Homo sapiens: one gene and its partners. The protein of the gene in region 1 interacts with the protein of each later gene in a biochemical or structural test. Each region holds a gene or a part of one and is shown in the gene's direction. Other genes may lie near its edges.

Region 1 (3,500 bases):
AATTATCTCCTAAAAGGTACTGTTGTTTGTAGTAACAAAAAAAGTACAATTAAAAAAAATGAAGAAAAATCTTTCTTCCGCTTAGCCACCTAGTATTTTTCTCCATTGGCAACTAGTATTACTAAATTCCTATTTATTCTTTCTGAGAACTTTTGTATATTAAAATGTTCTCCTCTCCCCCACCTTTTTTTTTGGTAAATGGTGGCATACTATTCATAGTATTTTGTAGTTTTTATTTTTATTTCATTTCATAGATCTCCAGTTTACATGAACCAGCTTTCTTTGAGAGTTGGGAGGGTAGTATTATTTCCTTTGGAATTCATACAGACATAGCCAATGCCATCATTTTGTGATGAAAGTTTCTAGGCCCTTCAGAAAGCCAGTCTTTCCAATTTTTTTAAGAAGAGAGTGTTAAGTGAATATAAAGTGTTTTATGGATTGTATTAGGGTTCTCCAGAGAAACAGAACCAATGAGAGAAAGAAATTTAGTTTAAGAAAGTGGCTCGTGTCTTTGGGAGCTGGCAAGTGTGAAATCTGTAGGGCACACTGGCCCACTATAAATTCAGGTTAAGAGTTGATGTTGTTGAATCCCTTTTCTTCAGAAAACCTAGTCTTTGCTTTTAAGGGTTTCAACTGATTGGATGAGGCCAACTTGGACTACAGGCGTGCGCCACTACCCCCAGCTAATTTTTTTGTAGTTTTAGTAGAGACAGGGTTTCACCATATTGGCCAGGTTGGTCTTGAACTCCTGACCTCGTGATCCACCCGCCTTGGCTTCCCAAAGTGTTGGGATTACAGGCGTGAGCCACCGCACCCAGCCAGATTACAACTTTCCTTTGTGCAACTAAAAATGTATGGATGGTTCTTGACTTAGGAGGGTTCAAGTCAGGATTTTTCAACTTTACAGTGGTGTGAAAGCAATATGCAATCAGTAGGAACTGTATTTTGAATACCCATACAGTCACTCTGTTTCTCATTTTCAGTACAGTATTAAGTAAATTACACGAGATAGTCAACCACTTTATTATAAAATAGGCTTTGTGTTAGATCATTTGTTCAGCTGTAGGCTAATGTATGTGTTCTGAGCATGTTTAAGGTAGGCTAGGCTAGGCAATGAAGTTTGGTAGGTTAGGTGTATTAAGTGTACTTTTTACTTAATATTTTCAACTTATGATGGGATTAGTGGGGCATAACCCCATTCATTGTAAGTTGAGGCACATCTTTACTAACTCCTTCTGCGGAAGAGGATGCAAAATCTTTGGGTGATGTTCACTCCTGTCCTTGATAGCCTGTGACTTAAATATTATAATGTAAAGTTAACAATACTTAAATAGTGTAATGTAAAGTCAGTACAGCTTGCTATAAGAGGATGAGAGAGGGAAGAAAAAGATATTTGCTTAATGTGTGTATATATATATATGAATGTGTTTATGCAAACATATTCATAACAAATCATATAGAAACCTTGATTTAGGAATCAGTCTTGCAATTTTGAAAATAGTTACTTTTCTGATTCTTGAGTAGAATGCGTCATATATTCCCCTATGAGGATTCTTAGGTATTGCTTACCAGTCATCTAGCATTTACAGCTTAGTGCAGCTTTCTTCACAATTCATCTTGTTGACTGCTACCCTTCATGAAATAAGAACTTTGTTTCTTTCTGACAAATGACCCTGAGAAGAAAATTAACTGCTAATACTGGGGATGAGTTATGGTGGGAAATGGAAACATTCTAATAAAGCAAGAAGGTAGTGGGAAACTGGAAAGTTTTAATAAAACAAGAAAGAAATTTTAAATAAGTTTAAGAGTCAGCTGTTGAATTTGGCAGTGGCTGGATTTATACAGGACCACTCTATTTACTCACTCAATAAGTATTGCAGAGCATTTACAGTACACCAGCCCTTAGTGATAGAGTAAGACAGACAGGGTCTTGGGCTTACAAGGAAGTTACAGTATACTGGAGGAACACAGAAAAATATCTGGGAGTGTAATAAGGGCTGGGGCATACGATTGAAATATGGTGCTGTGATAGAGATAAAGTGGCTACTTTAGGCTTGGAGGTCTTGAAAAGCCATCTTTTAAAACTTAACATTTAATTTTGATAAGAAAGAATAGCCAGCTATGTGATGAGCAAGGAGGGGAAGAGCAATAAGCTCCTTGTCTTATTTACTAGTAAGATCACTTTCTACTGTGAGCTTTTTAATGATAGACAAAGAATTTGGCTTCATTATATTATTAATAATCTTACACGTTTCTATATGTAAAGATTGTCCTACCTTTATGTAACTTCTGGGGAAGTATGATTAACTTAATAACTTGGCCATGATATCTGTTATCTTTCTTTCCTTTGAATTAAGGGTGATAATTTATTATATGTTCTTTTTGTTTGTGATCGCAGGGTGGTGTCATCACTTCTGACATGATTGAAATGATATTTTCCAAAAGCCCAGAGCAACAGCTTTCAGCAACACAGAAATTCAGGAAGCTGCTTTCAAAAGGTGAGCTATGAATATGTTCAGTATATTTTTTCATCTCTCTACAAAATTACTTTCCCATAGTCTGTTTTTCATACCACAGGTAATTTGTGTTGGAGTATTTTTATCAATAAAAGAATAAAAATACAGACATATATGTAATTGTGAACCATGCCTAAATTTTAAGTTTCCTATTTATTTGTGGGATCTCACCAGGATCAGAAAACAGAATTATTTTCATTTTTGGGTTATTTTATAAAAGACTTTATAGTGAATAGTAGTCAGTATCATGTTAATTCAAATTGAGAGACTGACTTTTTTTTATAGAGTGACTTTAAAAATACTCCTTGAAAGAGTTATGATTGTTGATTTTAATGTTAGCAATTTACCACTGAAAGTTAGGAATGCATTTACTGGTGGGCAGGGTGATTACCTTTTTTTTTTTTTTTAAAGACGGCTCTGTTGCCAGTCTGGAGTGCAGGCTGGGCGCGATCTTGGCTCACTGCAACCTCCGACTCCCTGGTTCAAGCGATTTTCCTGCCTCAGTCTCCCGAGTAGCTGGGATTACAGTTACACGCCACCACCCCCAGCTAATTTTTGTATTTTTTTTTTTTTTTTGAGATGGAGTCTCACTCTGTCGCCCAGGCTGGAGTACAGTGGCGCTATCTCGGCTCACTGCAAGCGCCGCCTCCCGGGTTCACGCCATTCTCCTGCCTCAGCCTCCCAAGTAGTTGGGACTACAGGCGCTCGCCACCGTGCCCAGCTAATTTTTTGTATTTTTAGTAGAGACGGTGTTTCACTGTGTTAGCCAGGATCTCGATCTCCTGACCTTGTGATCCTCCTGCCTCGGCCTCCCAAAGTGCTGGGATTACAGGCGTGAGCCACTGCGCCCGGCCTTTTTTGTATTTTTAGTAGAGATAGGATTTCACCATGTTGGCCAGGATGATCTCGATATCCTATCATGATCCGTCTGCCTCTGCCTCCCAAAATACTGGGATTACAGGCATGAGCCACCGCACCCGGCTG
Region 2 (3,500 bases), on another chromosome or scaffold:
GCCCTAAGATATATAACCAGTTATCACATTAACAAATTCTCTTTGTCATCACAAAGAAAATGCCTTAAAAGAATTTGGATCTTTGAAATTTGTCATGGAATTTATTATAAGCAGCAGCTTATAGAGAATTTCATCTCCTATTATAGGTAGAAGTAAAATCTGGAGAAGAAGATGAAGAAATTTTGTTTAAAGAGAGAGCCAAACTTTATAGATGGGATCGGGATGTCAGTCAGTGGAAGGAGCGCGGTGTTGGAGATATAAAGATTCTTTGGCATACAATGAAGAATTATTACCGGATCCTAATGAGAAGAGACCAGGTTTTTAAAGTGTGTGCAAACCACGTTATTACTAAAACAATGGAATTAAAGCCCTTAAATGTTTCAAATAATGCTTTAGTTTGGACTGCCTCAGATTATGCTGGTGAGTTTTTACATTCAAATGCTACTTTTCATTTTTTGGACTTTTCTAAAATCTATAACAAACAAAACAACTTATAACAGTTATTTTAATACTAAGGTCACTGCTTCCCCTTTCCCTCCCTGCCAGATGGAGAAGCAAAAGTAGAACAGCTTGCAGTGAGATTTAAAACTAAAGAAGTAGCTGATTGTTTCAAGAAAACATTTGAAGAATGTCAGCAGAATTTAATGAAACTCCAGAAAGGACATGTATCACTGGCAGCAGAATTATCAAAGGAGACCAATCCTGTGGTGTTTTTTGATGTTTGTGCGGACGGTGAACCTCTAGGGCGGATAACTATGGAATTATTTTCAAACATTGTTCCTCGGACTGCTGAGAACTTCAGAGCACTATGCACTGGAGAGAAAGGCTTTGGTTTCAAGAATTCCATTTTTCACAGAGTAATTCCAGATTTTGTTTGCCAAGTAGGTATTATTAAGTACATACCACAATTGAGGTCTTGAAGAGTGCACCACACTAATGGGAAATTTGAGTGTTTTTCCTTGACCTCATCCTGTAGTTTTGTTAAAGATTTCTTTAGGTTTTCCACACATGGAATCACATGGCATCACTACCCATTCCCTGCTCCTGCCTAAAACTTTCAACCTAAAATAATTGAGGCTGGGCACAATGACTCATACCTGTAATTCCAGCACTTTAGGAGGCCAAGGCAGGCAGATTGCTTGAGCCCCGGAATTTGAGACCAGCCTGGGTAACATGGCAAAAATCTCGTCTGGACAAAAAAATACAAAAATTAGCCAGGTGTGGTGGTGTGCGTCTGTGATCCCAGCTACAAGGAAGCTGAGGTGGGAGCATCCAGGAGGCCAAGGCTGCAGTGAGCTAGGTTTGCACCACTGCACTCCATCCTGGGCGACAGAGTGAGACAGCCTGTCATTAAAAAAAAAAAAAAAAAAAAAAAAAAAAATCAAATTTTCAGTACTTGAGATCTAGTAGAAACTAAGGGATGGGAAAAACCTTTTCATTTTTCATCTTCTTTCCAACAATATGAATTTCTTAGTTTTCAAACTATACTCAGGAAAGCTGGGCTTTAGGATTTAACATGTAGTGATGAGTTCTGTGTGTATTTTAATATTTTACTCAGGATTCCTATTAATTGAAAAAAATTTTTAACTTTTTTATTATAAATCTTTTTTTCAGGGAGGAGATATCACCAAACATGATGGAACAGGCGGACAGTCCATTTATGGAGACAAATTTGAAGATGAAAATTTTGATGTGAAACATACTGGTCCTGGTTTACTATCCATGGCCAATCAAGGCCAGAATACCAATAATTCTCAATTTGTTATAACACTGAAGAAAGCAGAACATTTGGACTTTAAGCATGTAGTATTTGGGTTTGTTAAGGATGGCATGGATACTGTGAAAAAGATTGAATCATTTGGTTCTCCCAAAGGGTCTGTTTGTCGAAGAATAACTATCACAGAATGTGGACAGATATAAAATCATTGTTGTTCATAGAAAATTTCATCTGTATAAGCAGTTGGATTGAAGCTTAGCTATTACAATTTGATAGTTATGTTCAGCTTTTGAAAATGGACGTTTCCGATTTACAAATGTAAAATTGCAGCTTATAGCTGTTGTCACTTTTTAATGTGTTATAATTGACCTTGCATGGTGTGAAATAAAAGTTTAAACACTGGTGTATTTCAGGTGTACTTGTGTTTATGTACTCCTGACGTATTAAAATGGAATAATACTAATCTTGTTAAAAGCAATAGACCTCAAACTATTGAAGGAATATGATATATGCAATTTAATTTTAATTCCTTTTAAGATATTTGGACTTCCTGCATGGATATACTTACCATTTGAATAAAGGGACCACAACTTGGATAATTTAATTTTAGGTTTGAAATATATTTGGTAATCTTAACTATTGGTGTACTCATTTATGCATAGAGACTCGTTTATGAATGGGTAGAGCCACAGAACGTATAGAGTTAACCAAAGTGCTCTTCTCTAGAATCTTTACACCTCCTGTGTGGTTACAAGTTAACTTTGTAAGTAGCGTACCTTCCTTCCTTAAAATATCTAGCTTCCTGTGCCCTTTCATAGATATTCGATTAATTTTTACATTTTAAACAAGTTGACTATTTCCTTTAGGGGTTTTGTTTCAAACTTTTCTGTCATCTGTCTCTACTACCTCAGAAACTGCAGCTTGGTTCTGATGATAGAAATTGAATTTTTCCTTGTAGTTATTGTGATAAAGTATGAATATTTTTAGAAAGTCTATACCATGTTCTTTCGTTAAAGATTTGCTTTATACAAGATTGTTGCAGTACCTTTTTCTGGTAAATTTTGTAGCAGAAATAAAATGACAATTCCTAAGAGCCACTGACATCCAAAAAATTCATTACTTACGCTTCGGGTTCATTCTAAAGTAAGGAAGACAATTTAAAGGCAGTAAATTCAAACTGCTGCATAATTTCCAGAGCTCCTAGTTTCTCAAGTTTGATACACACCAAAAACGTATTTGGAAATGGCTTGTATCAAATGTTAGGCAAATTGCTAAAGAAAAGAGGATGTTCTTATTGGCCTACTCAATATGGAACTACAAAGAATCCAGGTAGAACACAAAATTTTGTATATTGCAATTATGAATATTGACTGTCTTCCACCCATCTGTGTTCTTTCGGGTGAAATTACCTCATTTTATTTAGTGAGGAAAGACAGGTTTATTCCCTGTTACATGGGGATTTGGAAATTGGGTATCCTAAAGCAAGTAACTGTTCAACCACCAGTCAAAAGAGGGGAGGGATGTTGTGCGAGTAATGAGTGATGGTATACCATCACCATTCCACTCGGCCACAAAGCCAGATACTTGAAATAAACCTACTCCAAATGTATCAGTTCAGTCTTGAACCATGGATTACATATGTTTACACTAAATATTTCAAATTGGCTTATTTGGAAATCTATGTAATATAAACTGATGTAAAGTGTGTTGTAACTTTTCAGCTGAGACAGTTGATGCCTTCGTCATGATTTTAGAATAAATTCTTAAGTTAATGCAAGTGCTT
Region 3 (3,500 bases), on another chromosome or scaffold:
GTATATATATATGAATCACTGAAGTCCTAGCAGAAAGGTTTTGAGACTTCTCATTTAATAAATAGTATGTACTAACAAATTTTGCAGTATAGCTGTTGCTTCAAAAGTATACCTGGCCATTTTTGATACACAGTTGGACTCTTTGTGACCAAGAAGCATACCTCTTTCTACCTCTGAGACCTTTAGGGACTCACTGCTGATTGATTGCAGTCTAAACTCTTCAGCATAGCTTTTGTAACCTTTCTCTGTTTGCCACAACTTTGTCAATACTTTAACTCACCATTCAACATCTTGTATACCCTATACTAAATAGAAGTGAATTACTCACCCTTTTTTTTTTTGAGATGGAGTTTTGCTCTTGTCGCCCAGGGTGGAATGCAGTGGCACGATCTCGGCTCACTGCAATCTTTGCCTCCCAGGTTCAAGCGATTCTCTTGCCTCAGCCTCCCGAGTAGCTGGGATTACAGGCGCCTGCCACCACACCCGGCTAATTTTTGTATTTTTAGTAGAGACGGGGTCTCACCACATTGGCCAGGCTGGTCTCGAACTCCTGACCTCAGGTGATCCACCTGCCTCGGCCTCCCAAAGGGCTGGGATTACAGATGTGAGCCACCATGCCCGGCCTACTCACCATTTTCTAAACTCCCTCACACTTTACTCTAGTTCTTCATTCATACTGTTCTCTACTGAGATTGTATTCTGTTAAACTCCTTCAAACTCCTATTCGTCTTTGAAGACCTATTTTCAAATACCAATTCTAGGCTGGGTGCTGTGGCTCACGTGTATAATCCTTTGGGAGGCTGAGGTGGAAGGATTGCTTGAGACCATCATGGGCAACATAGTGAGACCCCATCCCTACCAAAAAAAAAAAAAAGATTACAAATTTCAAATACCAATTTCTCTGTGATATGTTGTTATTCATACATTCAATCCAGAAGTGAACTCTCCTTCCTTTGTGTTCTGTTTCTTTAATGCTTTGGGCCCATTTTAATGACAGTCAACCATATTTGTGCCCGAATTAATGTAGTTAATTTGTGTTCTTACCTCTTTTCCATCTGGGAATCTGAATTATGTTAAATGCCATTAAAACTAAATGCCATTAAAACTAAATGTCATTAAAACTAATTGATCTGAGATTATACATAGTGAGTTCTTATTTTGTATTCTGTAGATTCCATGCAATGGAAAAGCAGCTGATCGCATCCATCAGGATGGAATTCATATCCTTGTAAATATGAATGGCTATACTAAGGGCGCTCGAAATGAGCTTTTTGCTCTCAGGCCAGCTCCTATTCAGGTAAACAAATTAACAGTCATCACTTATAACATGTATTTGGCTAAGAATACAGTGAGGTGCTGCTTTTCCTCCCTCTGGTTAACTGATATTTGAAACTGTAGGGCAGACATACTTTTAATTTTTTTAAGTTGTTGAAATGCACAGGACAAAAAGAGTGTAGAGCACAGTGCTTATAGGTACATGTATATAGAGACATGCAATTCATGGTTGGCTATGAACAGTTACTCTGTCTTGCAAATTTGAAGAACATTTTAGCATTTTGAAAGTTAGTCTGAAATACAGGCCGGGTATGGTGGCTCACGCCTGTAATCCCAGCACTTTGGGATGCTTAGGCAGGAGGATCTCTTGAAACCAGGAGTTTGAGTCCTGCCTGGGCAACAAAGCAAAACACCCTATCTCTACAAAAAATTAAAAAATTAGCCAGAGTGGTGGTGTGCCTCTGTGATCCCAGCTATTTGGGAGGCTAAGGTGGAAGGATTGCTTAAGCTTAGGAGTTTGAGGCTGCAGTGAACTATCACTATGCCACTGCACTCCAGCCCAGGTGACAGAGTAAGAGTCTCTCTTATAGAACTGCTTCATTGCTTTCGGCTAAAGAAGTCAGCCTTGCTGTGCGTGTGGCAAGTGCCTGTAATCCTGGCTACTCTGGAGGCTGAGGCAGAAGGATTGCTTGAGCCCAGGAGTTTGAGGCTGTAGTGATCTACGATTGCACCACTGTATTCCAGCCTAGGGAACAGAGTGAGATCCTGTCTCTAAAAAAGAGTTAGACCTCCTTGTTTATTTACTTATTTAATTTTGGCACCTTTAGGTTCTTTTTTTAAAAACCACTTTATTGAGGTACAGTTGACATACAAAAAGTTGTACATATTTAATGTATGTGACTTGATGAATTTAGAGGTAAGTGTACTGATAAAAGTTCTTAATCAGTTTTTGATCTGATTTTTTTAAGGCAATGTGGCTGGGATACCCTGGGACGAGTGGTGCGCTTTTCATGGATTATATTATCACTGATCAGGAAACTTCGCCAGCTGAAGTTGCTGAGCAGTATTCCGAGAAATTGGCTTATATGCCCCACACTTTTTTTATTGGTGATCATGCTAATATGTTCCCTCACCTGAAGGTAGGTATGAAACAGTGCTATGGACGAATTTCAAAGAACTGTAGCTTTTTATTTCCTTGCTATTGTCTATGTAAATCCTAAAAGACATGTCTGAAACTATTTTTTCCATTAGAAAAAAGCAGTCATCGATTTTAAGTCCAATGGGCACATTTATGACAATCGGATAGTTCTGAATGGCATCGACCTCAAAGCATTTCTTGATAGTCTACCAGATGTGAAAATTGTCAAGGTCAGAACCTAGTCAGTATTGTCATTGAAATAAAGTTAACTGCATTCACGATCTTTTCCCTAATGATGCATTTTTTTTTCAGATGAAGTGTCCTGATGGAGGAGACAATGCAGATAGCAGTAACACAGCTCTTAATATGCCTGTTATTCCTATGAATACTATTGCAGAAGCAGTTATTGAAATGATTAACCGAGGACAGATTCAAATAACAATTAATGGATTCAGTATTAGCAATGGACTGGCAACTACTCAGGTGAGAAGATAATAATACACCATTATATGTCCCGCCAAGTATGCATTTATTTCCCTTAACCTCATGATAACTCTAGGAGGCAAGTATCATTATCACCATTTTTATGGATGAGGAAATGAGTTTAGTGGAAACGTGCATCTTATATAGGTGTGTCTGATTTTAAAAGTCTCCTGGATTCAGCCAGCAGATTATTACTTACTGAGAAACTGCTGTGTTAATATCTTGTTATTCCCTGCCTGTGGCTTTACTCTCTTACATGATGAACTATGTGTAGATTCCATACAGTTTCTTGCTTCTGTAAACCCATCCTTTCCCTAGCTAAATCCTACTCAAACGTTCAGTTCAGACAGCTCTTCCAGGAATCCATTTCCGTACTTACCGCTAACGTCTCCATCCCTACTTCATTGGTACCTGTCTTTTATACCTCTGTAATGTTTGGAATATATCATTACATACAGCACAACAGATGATAATTCCCTGTGTTTGTATCCTCTACTGAATTGAATTACTGAGCCCATGTCTTAATCACAGTAATGTAGTATGTACTCAATAAATAATATATTGCATGCTTAAATAAGTAGCTCTATCAAGAGAGTGTAAGGCA
Region 4 (3,500 bases), on another chromosome or scaffold:
TGCTCAGAAGATGATGATTGGACGGTGCAACCGAGCTGGGAAGCCTGTCATCTGTGCTACTCAGGCATGTGCCCACCCTTCCCCACATTCTCATGTGCACACTCGCATGTTTGTATGGGAAAGCTCTGGAGGCTGTCTGATCTCTTCCCATGGAATTGTCGCACGTAACACACAGATAATCCCCTTCCCCCATGTACCTACACAAAGCCATACTCTGTGTACCTACTCACTATCCAGAGGATCAGCTTGCTGTCATTTGTCTCTGAAGACAGCTCAAGCTACATCTCACTAATGCTCTGTCCCCTCCCAGATGCTGGAGAGCATGATCAAGAAGCCCCGCCCCACTCGGGCTGAAGGCAGTGATGTGGCCAATGCAGTCCTGGATGGAGCCGACTGCATCATGCTGTCTGGAGAAACAGCCAAAGGGGACTATCCTCTGGAGGCTGTGCGCATGCAGCACCTGGTGAGTTCTGGGGCCTGCCCCATCCCCCAGGGCTTCGGACTGGGCCTGGGATGGATGCAAGCTCTGGTGCAGAGCTTTTTAGGTTTCTCCATCCTCTTATGCACAGCCTTTCATTATCCTCCAAGTTACAGCAGCAAGAGGGTGGGGGTGGAAGTGGAGGTGGCTTTTTTTTTTCTCCTGTTCTGCATTCCTGCCCACACCCCCACCCCTCCATTTCCTTCTGCTCTGGAGGCATCCTCCTTCATTGGACACCACACAGTTTATTTCACTTCTGACTTCAAGGTTGTGAATTCTTCCCATGGCTTAAGTCCTGGGATACTTCTGCAGTGAAAGGAGGTCTTGTACCTCTTCCTCAGAGTCAGAAGTTCTGAGTACCTTTGCCCTATTCTGAAAAGGGCTAGGGGCTCCTGCTCCCAGCTGCCCTCTTCCTTTGGCTTCCAATTCAGTTCCCTCTGCCCCGCATCCTGCAGACAGGCGCTCCCGCAGGGGGCCCTTGTGGACCTGCACTGGAGTCTGTTGCCTTCACTGAGCTGCCTGTGCTGGCCTTGCATGGTGCCTGTAGGGGGATTTGCTTTGCTGTGCCATTGGGGTACAGCTGCTGCTCTTACTCTAGACCAAAAAGTCGGGTTGAGTGACTGGTGGCAGGGCCACAGATAGAGACAGCGGGGAGGGTGGCTGACCCTGGCGGCCCTGGACTGAGCGTCTGGAGGAGTCGTGGAGGCTCTTTCCCTTCTTTCTCCTCTGAGAGCTCGTTCTTCAGGCTCTTCCAGCTTGTCATGTCGAGTGCCTGGCCACTGCTCAGGGTTGGAGGCTCAGTCCCTTTGCCCTGTCTGTTCCAGCTCTGGAGCTAACTCAGGGATCCCTGATCAGGGTTACATAGGTTTGGTAAAATGAGTGCTGGAAATTAACTTTCTCCCAGTAGTCTTAGGTCATGCTCAGTGAACTTAAACTTTATCCAGATATGGTTTTCCTTCAGCCTTTCTATTCCCTTTCTAGCCAGTGAAAGACCCGCTGCCCTTTGACCTCAGCCCCTCCAAGCCCCCAAGTTTAAAACGCCACCCCCTGCCACCAGAAAAAACAGAAAAAAAAAAAAAAAAAAAAAACTAAAACACCCATCTGGTCTGGGCATCTTCCTTTCCTTTTTCACTATGTATCCTGTTACTGGGCTTAAACAGCTTTCAGAGAAGAGATGTCATTTCTATTAAATGCTCTTTCAGTAGCGAACTGAGTTCACACTTGACTAAGGATATTTTCCGGACTGTCTGTCATCAGCATCCTTAGTGGGTTTCCCCATATTTAAATTGGTAGAGGCCAGGGATGGTGGCTCACACCTGTAATCTCAGTACTTTGGGAGGCCAAGGTAGGTGGATTGCTTGAGCTCAGAAGACCAGCCTGGGCAACCTGGTGAAACCCTGTCTCTACTAAAAATTCAAGTTAGCTAGCTGGGCATGGTGATGCACTTCTGTAGTCCCAGCTACTTGGAGAGGGGGTGATGCTGGGGCAGCAGGATCGCTTGAACCCAGGAGGTTGAGGTTGCAGTGAGCCAAGATGGTACCAGCCTAGGTGACAAAGTGACACCCTGTCTCAAAAAAGAAACCAAACAAACATAAAAAAAAAAACAAAAAAATCGGTAGAGAGTGATTTCTCTCCCAGGCCCACTTAATGTAGACTGGGCCTGGCTGACACCTCACCATTCGTGTGATGTGATTGCTGTTCTGATGCTTAGATACTCTTGGCGCAGTCTCACAATTGCCACCATGGTAGGAAGGTGTCCCAGGAGACGGTGCACCTTGAACCAGTCACCACTAAAGTGGCTGCCTTTCTGGGTCTCTCCACACATCCCCTCTCTCTAATTTCCCTACTTAATCGTGTGACTTCATGGTCTCAAAGGAGGAACAGAGGCTGATCTTGACTTAGATATACTGAACCATGAAATCACTGCATAGAATGTGGGGACTTGAATGTGTCTTTGGGCAAGTCATTTAACCTCTTAAGACCTCATCTGTAAAATGGATTAGATATGTTTAATTATAGCCTTAGCATTAAATATTCATTGCTGTTATTATTAAGTGTCTGATAAGTCTCTGTGTACATGGATGTAATCTTCCTAACTCCCATTACCTCCATTTATAGATGAGGGTTATATGGCCAATAAAGCCTGGGTTTGAATCTAGGTCTACTGCCTCCAAAGCCAGTCTTCTCTCCTGCAACATCATGCTCTGTCTAGCAGGAGATGAGAACAGGTCTCCATTTGGAGCCTGTCAGTGGGGTCAGAGACTAAGATTCAGGCTCAGGGTCTAAATTCCATATCCTTTCTTCCATACCCTGGTGTTTCCTATGAACAGATAGATACTTTAGGGCTGCAAGGTTTGGATTGCATGGCACTGCTCAGAAGATAAGTTACAGGTCTGGGCTAGGCTGTAGCTGCCCCTCCAGGTGGCTAGACCTTTCCTTTCTGTGTCACCAGTTAACACTGGCCAACAGTTCCTTCCATTAACTGTTCACTGCTTTCTCCTGTGTCTAACTGATGCAGTTTATGACCCATAACTAAGAGCAGTACCAGGTATGGCTCTGTTTCCTGTTCATGTCCCCTGTCCTCTGGGCTGCATGCATTCCGTTCTTACAGAAAGAATACCTTTAACCTAGTACATCCTGCCACACATCTGCTTCTACTGTGAAATTGATGAGGGGGTATTACCGATTCTTCCCTCACCCATCATTTACTGAGATGCTGGTGATTGCATTATAATCCTCTAAAGCTTACATTGTCTTTCTGATTCTTGGTCTTATCTGAGCAAGTGATCTATAAATAACTCAGTGGCTTTCTCATGACTGTTTTAATTATTAGATTTTAATCAAGTGTCTTATTAAATATATCTGCATGCTTCCACAGGCATCTGTCTCTTCACATGGCTGTTCAGTGTGCCTCTCACAAGTTAGCCCACGTTTTCTGTTCTCCTGCTTCAAACTCAGTTGAGCTGCCTTGCTTTGGCTTTGATCCCAGCTTTCCAGCGCTGCTCAATCTGTTGCCATGGCA
Region 5 (3,500 bases), on another chromosome or scaffold:
TTTTTAATAGACATGGGGTTTCACCACGTTGGCTAGGCTATTCTCAAACTCCTAACCTCGGGCGATCTGGTCACCTCATCCTCCCAAAGTGCTGGGATTACAGGCATGAGCCACCGTGCCCGGCCACTTTTTTTCTTGAGATGGTGTTTTACCATGCTACTCAGACTGGACTTGAATCTCTGGGCACAAGCTATCCTCCCCTCTCAGACTATGAAGCAGGTGGGGTTACAGGAGCATAACCAAGCCCAGCTTGTTTGGTTATCACTTTTAAGAATATTTCTCGTTAGTAAGAATTGAAATACATTCCAAGAGAAGAATGGGAAACAGGCTAAAAACACAAATTAGAAATAGGGATGGTATGGTTCGGATTGGTTTAGTCTGATTTTGAGTTACCTTTGTACAAGTTTATAAAATAAGTGTTTAATAGCATTCACCGAGGCTCGGGGACAAGCAATCCCTTCCAGAAAGGCTTTGGAGTAGGACCTGATTGTAGTATTGACCCTGTTGGGGCTTTGGAAGATTTCCTTTTTTAAAAATTGATATAATTAGGCCAGGCATGGTGGCTCACGCCTGTAATCCCAGCACTTTGGGAGGCTGAGGTGGGTGGATCACTTGAGGTCAGGAGTTCAAGACCAGCCTGGCCAACATGGTGAAACCCGGTATCTACTAAAAATACAAAAATTAGCTGGGTATCGTGGTGCCTGCCTATTGGTCCCAGTTACTTAGGAGGTTGAGTCAGGAGAATTGCTTGAACCTGGGAGGTGGAGGTTGCAGCAAGCCAAGAATGCGCCACCGTGTTCCATCCTGGGCAACAGAGGGAGACTCCCATCTCAGAAAAATGGGTATAAATTCATGATGTAACCACAATGTAATTTTGTTTGTCTTTAAGTTGGGCATTGATAGGAATGAAAAGTGTAGATATCAAGGTCCAAATCAGTACCTGGTTTTTTTTGTGGGATTTTTTTTTTTTCGGCAAGTCTCGCTCTTGTGCCCCAGGCTGGTGTGCAATGGTATGATCTCTGCTCGCTGCAACCTCTGCCTTCCAGGTTCAAGTGATTCTCCTGCCTCGGCCTCCAGAGTAGCTTGGATTACAGGCACTTGCCACCACGCCTGGCTAAGTTTTGTATTTTTAGTAGAGACGGGGTTTCACCATGTTGGCCAAGCTGGTCTCGAACTCCAAAGTGCTGGGATTACAGGCGTGAGCCACCATGCACCGCCGCAAGTTTTCATATAAGTTGAAGAAAGTGTACTAAGGTCTGCATAGTAGTAAAGGATGCCTTGAGGGAAACAAATATTAATAGAAACTTCAGTGGTGAGATGGCAAGGGCCCAGCATAGATAGATGGCAATGAAAATGCAAAGAGGTGCATGAAGGTTCGTTATAGTTACTTAGAAATCTAACCTTTTGAACACAGATCAAAGGGGAATTTGGTTCCTTTTTGAGGATGGAATGGGTATATGGTGTGGGCTCAGATGACTCTTGATTTAAGCAAGAAAGGCTATGTAATGTGCATAGTGCTGATGTATACTATACATAGATGTATGTAATACGTTGATAGTATGTGGCCCTTAAATGTCTTTTTTAATTTTTGGGGAATTTCTTAAGTAAAGCTGAATTTTTTTTTTTTTTTTTGGAGACAGTCTCTGTTGCCCCGGCTGAAGTGCATTGTTGGCTAGGCTGGAGTGCAGTGGTGCAATCATGGCTCACTGTAACTTCTGCCTCCCGGGTTCAAGTGATTCTCCTGCCTCAGCCTCCCAAGTAGCTGGGATTACAGGCATGTGCCAGCATGCCAGGCTAATTTTTTGTATTTTTAATAGAGATGGGGTTTCGCCATGTTGGTCAGGCTAGTCTTGAACTCCTGACCTCAGGTGATCTGCCCACCCCAGCCTCCCAGAGTGCTGAGATTACAGGTGTGAGCCACCACACCCTGCCAGTAAAGCTGTTTTGATAGTAGTTTTGATAGCTATTTTGATAGTAGTTTAATAGACTTGTTTTAACAAATAAGAAAAAATGTTTAAAAAAAGCATTCTCATCTTGTTTCTAGCACAGGGGAGGCACCTGCAGGGATTGGGTTCTAATGCCAGAAACTTGTACTGACAAAATCACTGTTAAAAAGCCACTTGAAGGGCTATTTGTGACAGCTTTTTAAGTTATGATACTTTTTCTAAATACAGCAAATATTTCTTCGGTATTGGAAAGATAGGTGTTTCTTACATGAAGTTGCTGTATTGGGATTTAGAGACCAGTACGTTCAGTTGTTGAATTAAACGTGAACCCCTTGGTATTTGCTAATAGAGACTTCTGCCTGACTTGCCCTCCAGTGACTCGATTTGATTACTCCCCTCCATTGTTTACCTATTAACAGTTCACACCTGTAATCCCAGCACTTTGGGTGGTCGATGCGGGCAGATCACCTGAGGTCAGGAGTTGAAGACCAGCCTGGCCAATATGGTGAAACCCCGTCTCTGCTAACATACAGCTGGGTGTGATGGTGGGCGCTTGCAATCCCAGCTGCTGGGGAGGCTGAGGCAGGAGAATTGCTTGAACCCGGGAGGCGGAGGTTGCAGTGAGCCGAGATCGCACCATTGCATTCCAGATTGGGCAACAAGAGTAAAACTCAAAAAAAAATAGTGTGCAGTTCAGTGGTTTTAGTATGCATAGTTGTGTAGCCATCACCATAATCAATTTTAGAACATTTCATCACCTCAATGAGAAATCGTACTCTATAGGTATTACCCCTCATGCTCTTCAGCTCTAGTCAACCACGAATGAACTTTGTCTATAGGTTTCCTGTCCCTCATATTTTGCACGAATGGACTTCTGTGACTGTTTTCTTAGCACAGTGTTTTCAAGTTTCATCCATGTTATAGCATTATCAGTACTCCATTTATTTATATGGTTGAATACATTGTATGGGTATGTTTGGTTATTCATCAGTTGGTGAGCATTTGAGTTGCTTCTACTTGTTGACTGCTATGAACGCTTGTAGACATGTCATTTTACTTGGATGTACACCTAAAGCAGAGTGGCTCACCCATTGTATTCCCACTAGCAGTGTATGGGGCTTCTGATTTCACTCCAACCTACTGATTTCACTACACCCTCACTTGCCATTATCTGACTCTAATCCTGGTGGTATGAAGTGCTGATTGTGGGTTTGATTGCGTCTCCCTGTGGACTAATAATGAGCATCTTTTCATGTATTCATTGGCCATATATCTTTGGAGAAATGTTTTTGCCCACTTAAATCCATTTACTTCTCTTTGTCTTTACTAAGTTGTAAGAATTCTTTTTTCTTTTTTCTTTTTGATATGATTTTTGTATTTTTAGTAGAGAAGGGGTTTTGCCATGTTGGCCAGGCTGTTCTTAAACTCCTGTCTTCAGTGATCCACCTCCCTCTGCCTCCCAAACTGCTGAGATTACAGCTGTGAGCCACTGTGCCTGGCAAGAATTCTTTTTTTTTTTTTTTTGACAAGTCTCTGTTGCCCAGGCTTGAGTGC
Region 6 (3,500 bases), on another chromosome or scaffold:
TACTTGAAAATAGATGTTACCTGTTAAAATTCTTGTTTAAACTTCCACAACTCTTAAAACTCTTTTTTGCTAGTCCTTCCAGCTGTTTCCTTTAGTTTCTTTTCTGTGTCTTCATGCATCTTTTCTATCTCCTGAAAGTGAAAAGACTAACATTGGATCCAGAGCTTGAAAAGCGTTTTTTTCCTGTTACAATGGGCAAAAGAGTACATCCTTGGGTTATATTGGCACCTAGTATCAGTTATTTTTCTTGAGCATCTGATCTGCTCTCTACTCTAGTGGAGGCCTCCTGCTTCACAATTGCTCACCCCTGTGTTTTCTCCCCAAATAGAATACTGAGTTTACTCTGGACTCTAGAGTCAAACATACACAGTATTCTAGTCTTACTGTTCATTTAAGCAAGATATGTGCAAGACACTGCATTCTTAGTACTGGCAGTAAGTTAAAACATTTTTCGTCTTGATGCCAAAGTTTAGACAATTTTATAAAAATTAACCTTTGTAAAAGATAATGAGTTGATAAAATATTCTCAGTAAAGCAGCTACGTGGTAGAAAAACTGTCCTTTGCTTATGAGTTTCTCCAGAGTTAAGACCATTGGGTTCCATCTGAAGGCAAGACTTCAAGCTTGTCTTACTGGTCTGTTTTGTGGCTCAATTTGTATGAAGTCTATGCACTCTTCCACACGTGTGTATTTACTGAACTATCGAGTTATTTTAGACTGAGAAAGTATTGGAGTTCATTCCTACGGTCCACTGCAGAGCACCTTGTGCAGTTTGGAGAATGTCAACTTTTCTACCTGTTAACTTCCATTGTCTTTACTTTTAACGCCATTGTCTGTGACTCTAATGGTGTCACGGCTCAGGGTTTAGATTTTGTGGTTACATTCTATTCTTGTATGTCAAGAGTGGTGTATAGAAAGCTGAGGGGGATTATTTAGTCTCTTGACTGATTTTTTTTTTTTTTCTGAAGAACTCAGTTTATTATGTTTGGTGGTGAAATAAAAATTGATGTGCATGGATGTTAAAGATTTGGGTTAAATTGTGTGTTCATAGATGCCTTCTCTTAGTATATAATTTTTTAAATTTAGATACTTAAAATACTGTATCCCTTTATCTAAGATTAACATAAGTCTGTTTCTTAACCAGGATAAAAAAATCTAAATTTAAATGTGATGTTGGATGAGTTTCCAATCAAGAAATTGATTTTTTAAACTTTGTGACTAGTTATCCAGTGGGTGGATTTTACCCAGTGTGTGTATGTGTTTTCTGCTTAACTCTGGAAGGTTAGAAAGAGAATTTGAAACTAAGACAAGCCAAGCTTCTTGTTGCTCAGTATTTTTGGTAAAAATATGGTCAGATTGTTTAAATTAACTATAGGCTTTGGAATTTTAAAAATAATTATATCTCTTGGTCTCTTGACACATCAAGAATTAACTGTTTTGTATATGCGTTGAGTATTAATGTTCATGTTTTCTGCAGTAGAAATTTATAAACCCTTATTTATTTGCCAGACATGATCCCTTTAGAGAAATCTAGTATCTAAAACCTGAATTTTTAAAACAAAATTTAAAATTTTTGTTTCATAAAAACAAAAATGTGATTACCTCATGGCTTTTTTCTTATAGCTTTTGATTGTTTTTTAAAATCGTAGTTCAAAAACATTAACCTAAAATTTACCATCTTAACCATTTCTAAGTACTGTTCAGTAGTGTTAAGTATATTCACATTGTGCCACTAACTTCCAGAACTTTTTCATCTTGCAAAGCTGAAATCTTACCCATTAAACAACTCCCAATTTCCCCCTCTCCTCAGCCTCTGGCAACCACCATTTTACTTTCTGTTTCTGCAAATTTAACTACTCTAGATGCCTCATATAAATAGAATTATAGGGTTTTAATATTTTTGTGATGGGCTTATTTCACTTTGTGTAATGTCCTCAAGGTTCATCCATGTTGTAGCATGTGTCAGAATTTCCTTCCTTTTTGAGTCTGAGCAATATTCCATTATATGTTCCATATTTTGTTTCTCCATTCATCCAGCAACGGACACTTGGGTTGCTTCCACATCTTGGTTATTGTGCTGCTCTGAACATGAGTCTGCAAATCTCTCTTTGAAGCTTTCACTTTTTTTGGATACATATCCAGAAGAGGGATGCTGGATCATATGGTAACCCTTTTTAATTTTCAAGGAACCACCATATTGTTTTCTATAGCAGTTGCACCAGTTTACATTCCCACCAACAGTGCACAAGGGTTCCTATTTCTCCACATCCTTCTAAACACTTGTTTTCTTTCTTTCCTTCCTTCTCTTCTCTTTCTTTCTTAGCCATCTAATGTGGCAAAGTGGTAGCCATCTAATATGTTGAAGTGATTGTTTTTAAGGGCTTGTTTGTGGATAATTAACCAGCTGAAAGCTAACTACAGTTTGCCAGTGGAAGCTTTAACTGAAAGGAGAGTAAGTACCTCTAAAAGGAGAATTCAATTTTTCTAGTGACTTAGATTTGTTATGCCAGTACTTTTTCACAGAAACACTTTTTGGGTAAAATAGTGTACACCTGTTCTATTGTTGATAAAGCCCAATTTAATTAGGAAATTTGTTCTCTAAGATTTAAAACAATAATTGAAATAATGTATTTTTATTAAAAACTGTTCCCAAGATGTTAGCTTTTAGCTGTTCTGGTGATCTCAACTGTTATTTATGAGTGTTTCTTTATTTTAAAATTTCACCTTAACCGGTTACAGTTTTAACCATAAAGATTATTTCAACATATGATTTTGAAAATTTATTATCTTGTAAATGGGAAAATGTAGTGATGGAACATAGTTTACTGTATGTAGTTCTTCACTTGTTTGAAAAGTCACAATATATTTAGGCAAATTAATTTAAAAGTGTCTAGTATTTAATATTGCAATTTTCACTCATTAAGGACAGGTCCCCCGTGTTTCCCCCTTTTTTTTTTCCAAGTAGTTTGGGAGGATTTGTTTTTCCAGCTGAAAAATACTATGGTTAAAAATAAGGTTTAAAGGCGAAAGTTGAAGTCTTTGAGGGTTGGGATACGTTTCTGTTCTTAAGAGTCTTGTAAATTCAGATGCTAAGCAAATTTCTTTAAAATGATTTCTACCCTCCCCCTTTCCATTATAAAACTGGATATGTTTCAGTGGACCAAATCCCAAGTAGGCTGAATTTGAAATTTGTGGGCTGGGCGCGGTGGCTCATGCTTGTAATCCCAGTACTTTGGGATGCCGAGGTGGGTGGATCACCTGAGGTCAGGAGTTCGAGACCAGCCTGGCCAACATGGTGAAACCCCATCTCTACTAAAAATACCAAAATTAGCCAGGCGTGGTGGCGGGTGCCTGTAATCCCAGCTACTTAGGAGGCTGAGGCAGGAGAATTGCTTGAACCTGGGAGGCGGAGGTTGCGGTGAGCCAAGATCGCCCCATTGCACTCCAGCCTGGGTGACAGAGCAAGACTGTGTTTCAAAAAAATTAAAAAAGAAATCTGTG
Region 7 (3,500 bases), on another chromosome or scaffold:
ATATTTATATTAGAGTTTTAGGTATCAGAAGAAATACTTAACACATCCTTGGTTCTGTACCTTCACAATAAACTTTTCTCAGCTGGTGCTGGTGGGGAGGATTTCTGCAATTGAAAGAAGCAAAAATATATATTATTGCTGTACATTCTTGATTTTTTATTTTTTTACTCAGTCTCGCTCTATTGCCTAGGTTGGAGTGTAGTGGCACGATCTTCTCTCACTGCAACCTCCGCCTCCCGGGTTCAAGCGATTCTTCTGCCTCATCCTCCTGAGTAGCTGGGATTACAGGCGCCCGCCACCACGCCTAGTTAATTTTTGTATTTTTAGTGGAGACAGGGTTTCACCAAGTTGGCCAGGCTGGTCTTGAACTCCTGACCTCAGGTGATCCACCCACCTCAGCCTCTCAGAGTGCTGGAATTACAGGCGTGAGCCACTGCACCCATCCATATTGCTATACATTCTTAACACGGGAGATAACTACCCCTAAGGAGGTGAAAATTGGTTTGTGTATGTGAGTAGGTGTAAATAATCTTACTGGTTGATTGTTTAAAGCACAGATATGCACAGAGGACATAGGATATCTATGGTATTAAAATTTCATGGGACTGGTGGGGAGGGAATAGTTCTTAAAAGAGTTCTTAGAGGAGCAATAGTAAAAAAAAAAAAAAGGTTGAGAAACACTAACTTAAATTACCCTTTCTAGGTTTAAAGTGGTAGAAATGACTTAACCATGGCACTCTCTATGTGTATAGAAACTAAGTTCCAATGAGTTGTTTAATTATATCCTGTTTTTAGGCCATAACCTAAGGGTTTAACTGCTCATGAAATGCTTAAACGCTTTCCTTTTTTTTTTTTTGGAGATGGAGTCTCGCTCTGCTGCCCAGGCTGGAGTGCAGTGGCGCGATCTCAGTTCACTGCAACCTCCACCTCCCAGGTTCAAGCGATTCTCCTGCCTCAGCCTCCCAAGCAGCTGGGACTACAGGCATGCACCACCACGCCTGGCTAATTTTTTGTATTTTTAGTAGAGACAGGGTTTCATCATGTTGGTCAGGCTGGTCTCGAACTCCGGACCTCAAATGATCCTCCTGCCTTTTGTTCTTGTTACTGAGGCACAAATACTCTGATTGGTAGTGTGATAAATTGTAAAACTACATATATGTGTGTGTATATATTTATATTGTGTGTGTAAAATTATATGTGTAATTTTACACAATATAAATGTTATATTTATATATAAACATACGTATATATGTATGTATATGTAAAACTACATGCGTGTATATATTGTGTGTAAAATATAGTTATATATAATTTTAGATAATATAAATGTATTATATTTATATATAAATATATAAATTATATATGTAAAACTACATGTGTATATATTTATATTGTGTGTAATATATATAATTTATATATACATATAAATTTTATATATATAAAATATATGTAATTTTACACACACACAATATAAATGTATACACACACATATATGTGGTTTTACATATATATGTAATTTTACACACAATGTAAAAAACGCACCCCTTCTCCCATATAATAAACCTTTCCCTGGCCGGGTGCGGTGAGTCACTCCTGTAATCCCAGCACTTTGGGAGGCTGAGACCAGTGGATCACTTGAGGTCAGGAGTTCAAGACCAGCCTGGCCAACATAGTGAAACCCTGTCTCTACTAAAAATACAAAATTAGCCATGTGCAGTGGCACGCACCTGTAATCCCAGCTACTCAGGAGGCTGAGGCAAGAGCATCACTTGAACCCGGGAGGCAGAGATTGCAGTGAGCCGAGATCTCACCATTGCACTCCAGCCTGGGCAAAAAAAAAAAGGGAAACTCCGTCTCAAAAACAAAACAAAAGAAAAACCTTTCCCCTGGATATCACTTAAATGGATGTATTGTGATGTATTGTTTTCTGAAGGATTTATCCTGTGTATTGGATCACTCATTCAACAAATATGTTGAGTAATTTTGTATGCCAGGTATAGAATATGCAATATAGGTTCATAATTTGCTTTTATGGCCTAATATATCTGGGGCATGTATCTTTGTTAGTAGATGGAGACCTGCCTCCTTTTGATGGCTGTATAGTAGACCATAATTAACTATTCCTTACTGATAGACATTTAGATGGTTTCTAATTTTTTGACTTCAAAAGCATAGTTTTGCTATAGAAATACTTTCTAAGTAGAATGTTGTATCAAAGGGCAGGACCGTTTTTTAATATAATTGATACTGCTAAGTTGCACTCCAGAAAAAGATTTGAAGTCCCACAACAGCGTATGTATTTATGTCTGTTTCTCCATGCCTTTGCCAACACTGGACTCAGTAGAGTTCATTCTCAAGTTTACATTGCTTTTTTTATTTGTGATGTTGAGCTTACATCTCCTGTTTATTTATGTTTTTTGCCCGTATTTCCTTTTGAGTTACCTCTTCATATAAGGTAAATTATACCTTCTCCACCCAATAAATAGGTGCAGATCATTTTCTTGTTTAACTTAAAATCTTAAGTCCTGTTATTGGTTAGAAGCTGTAAGTTGCTTTTTTAATGGAGCCTTGCTCTGTCACCCAGACTGGAGTGCACTGGCATGATCTTAGCTGACTGCAGCCTCCTTATGGGCTCAAACGATCCTCCCACCTATGCCTCCCAAGTAGCTCTGGCTACAGACATACACCACCATACCTGGATTTTTATTTTATTTATTTATTTTTTTTGAGTCGGAGTCTGGCTCTGTCGCCCAGGCTGTAGTGCAGTGGCGCAATCTCTGCTCACTGCAACCTCCGTCTCCCAGATTCAAGCTATTCTCCTGATTCAGCCTCCCAAGTAGCTGGGATTACAGGCGCCCACCACCACACCCAGATAACTTAATTTTTTTTTTTTTTAAGAGATGGCATGTCACTATGTTGCTCAGGCTGATCTGGAACTCTGGCCTCAATCTTCCCACCTCAGACCTCCCATTCAATGATTTCATAAAGTATGTGTTCATCTATTGTTGTCTTCTGGGACTTTTATGTTTGGGCCATTAAAACTTTTGTCATTCTGGTATTTGGTATGGAATCAGAATCCAGCCTTTTTTTCCTAAATGATTGAGTTTTTGTTGTTATTTTGAGGCGGAGTCTTGCTTTGTCACCCAGGCTGGAGTGCAGTCACACAATCCCCGCTTACTGCAACCTCTGCCTCCTGGGCTCAAGCAGTCCTCCTGCCTCAGCGTCCTGAGTAGCTGGGATTGCAGGCATGCGCCACCATGCCCAGCTGATTTCCATTGTATTTTTTGTAGAGAGTAGGTCTCACCACGTTGCCCAGGCTGGTCTGAAAACTCCTGGGCTCTTGCAATTCACCCACTTTGGCTTCCCAAAGTTCTGGGCTTATAGGCATGAGCCACTATACTCAGCCAAAAAAATTTTTTTATTCAGTCAACCATTGATGGACACTTGGGTTGATTTCCGTATCTTTGGTATTGTGAATAATGCTACAGTGAACATACAAG

What was found.
Region 2: the proteins of KPNA1 (region 1) and RANBP2 form a complex in vitro, tested with the Homo sapiens proteins (one study listed by BioGRID).
Region 3: the proteins of KPNA1 (region 1) and OGT form a complex in vitro, tested with the Homo sapiens proteins (one large-scale study listed by BioGRID).
Region 4: the proteins of KPNA1 (region 1) and PKM form a complex in vitro, tested with the Homo sapiens proteins (2 studies listed by BioGRID).
Region 5: the proteins of KPNA1 (region 1) and NPM1 form a complex in vitro, tested with the Homo sapiens proteins (one study listed by IntAct).
Region 6: the proteins of KPNA1 (region 1) and HIF1A form a complex in vitro, tested with the Homo sapiens proteins (one study listed by BioGRID).
Region 7: the proteins of KPNA1 (region 1) and RBBP4 form a complex in vitro, tested with the Homo sapiens proteins (one study listed by BioGRID).

What each region holds. Positions count from the first base shown.
Region 1 is NC_000003.12:122,462,940-122,466,439, reverse strand, and holds part of KPNA1 (importin subunit alpha-5), read left to right. Parts: intron 1-2,398; coding exon 2,399-2,498; intron 2,499-3,500. UniProt on the Homo sapiens protein: Functions in nuclear protein import as an adapter protein for nuclear receptor KPNB1. Binds specifically and directly to substrates containing either a simple or bipartite NLS motif.
Region 2 is NC_000002.12:108,781,982-108,785,481, forward strand, and holds part of RANBP2 (E3 SUMO-protein ligase RanBP2), read left to right. Parts: intron 1-146; coding exon 147-420; intron 421-546; coding exon 547-881; intron 882-1,614; coding exon 1,615-1,920; 3' UTR 1,921-3,500. UniProt on the Homo sapiens protein: E3 SUMO-protein ligase which facilitates SUMO1 and SUMO2 conjugation by UBE2I. Involved in transport factor (Ran-GTP, karyopherin)-mediated protein import via the F-G repeat-containing domain which acts as a docking site for substrates.
Region 3 is NC_000023.11:71,560,604-71,564,103, forward strand, and holds part of OGT (UDP-N-acetylglucosamine--peptide N-acetylglucosaminyltransferase 110 kDa subunit), read left to right. Parts: intron 1-1,171; coding exon 1,172-1,297; intron 1,298-2,243; coding exon 2,244-2,414; intron 2,415-2,526; coding exon 2,527-2,643; intron 2,644-2,725; coding exon 2,726-2,896; intron 2,897-3,500. UniProt on the Homo sapiens protein: Catalyzes the transfer of a single N-acetylglucosamine from UDP-GlcNAc to a serine or threonine residue in cytoplasmic and nuclear proteins resulting in their modification with a beta-linked N-acetylglucosamine (O-GlcNAc).
Region 4 is NC_000015.10:72,203,691-72,207,190, reverse strand, and holds part of PKM (pyruvate kinase PKM), read left to right. Parts: coding exon 1-64; intron 65-310; coding exon 311-463; intron 464-3,500. UniProt on the Homo sapiens protein: Catalyzes the final rate-limiting step of glycolysis by mediating the transfer of a phosphoryl group from phosphoenolpyruvate (PEP) to ADP, generating ATP.
Region 5 is NC_000005.10:171,394,349-171,397,848, forward strand, and holds part of NPM1 (nucleophosmin), read left to right. Parts: intron 1-3,500. UniProt on the Homo sapiens protein: Involved in diverse cellular processes such as ribosome biogenesis, centrosome duplication, protein chaperoning, histone assembly, cell proliferation, and regulation of tumor suppressors p53/TP53 and ARF.
Region 6 is NC_000014.9:61,698,513-61,702,012, forward strand, and holds part of HIF1A (hypoxia-inducible factor 1-alpha), read left to right. Parts: intron 1-3,500.
Region 7 is NC_000001.11:32,657,708-32,661,207, forward strand, and holds part of RBBP4 (histone-binding protein RBBP4), read left to right. Parts: intron 1-3,500. UniProt on the Homo sapiens protein: Core histone-binding subunit that may target chromatin assembly factors, chromatin remodeling factors and histone deacetylases to their histone substrates in a manner that is regulated by nucleosomal DNA.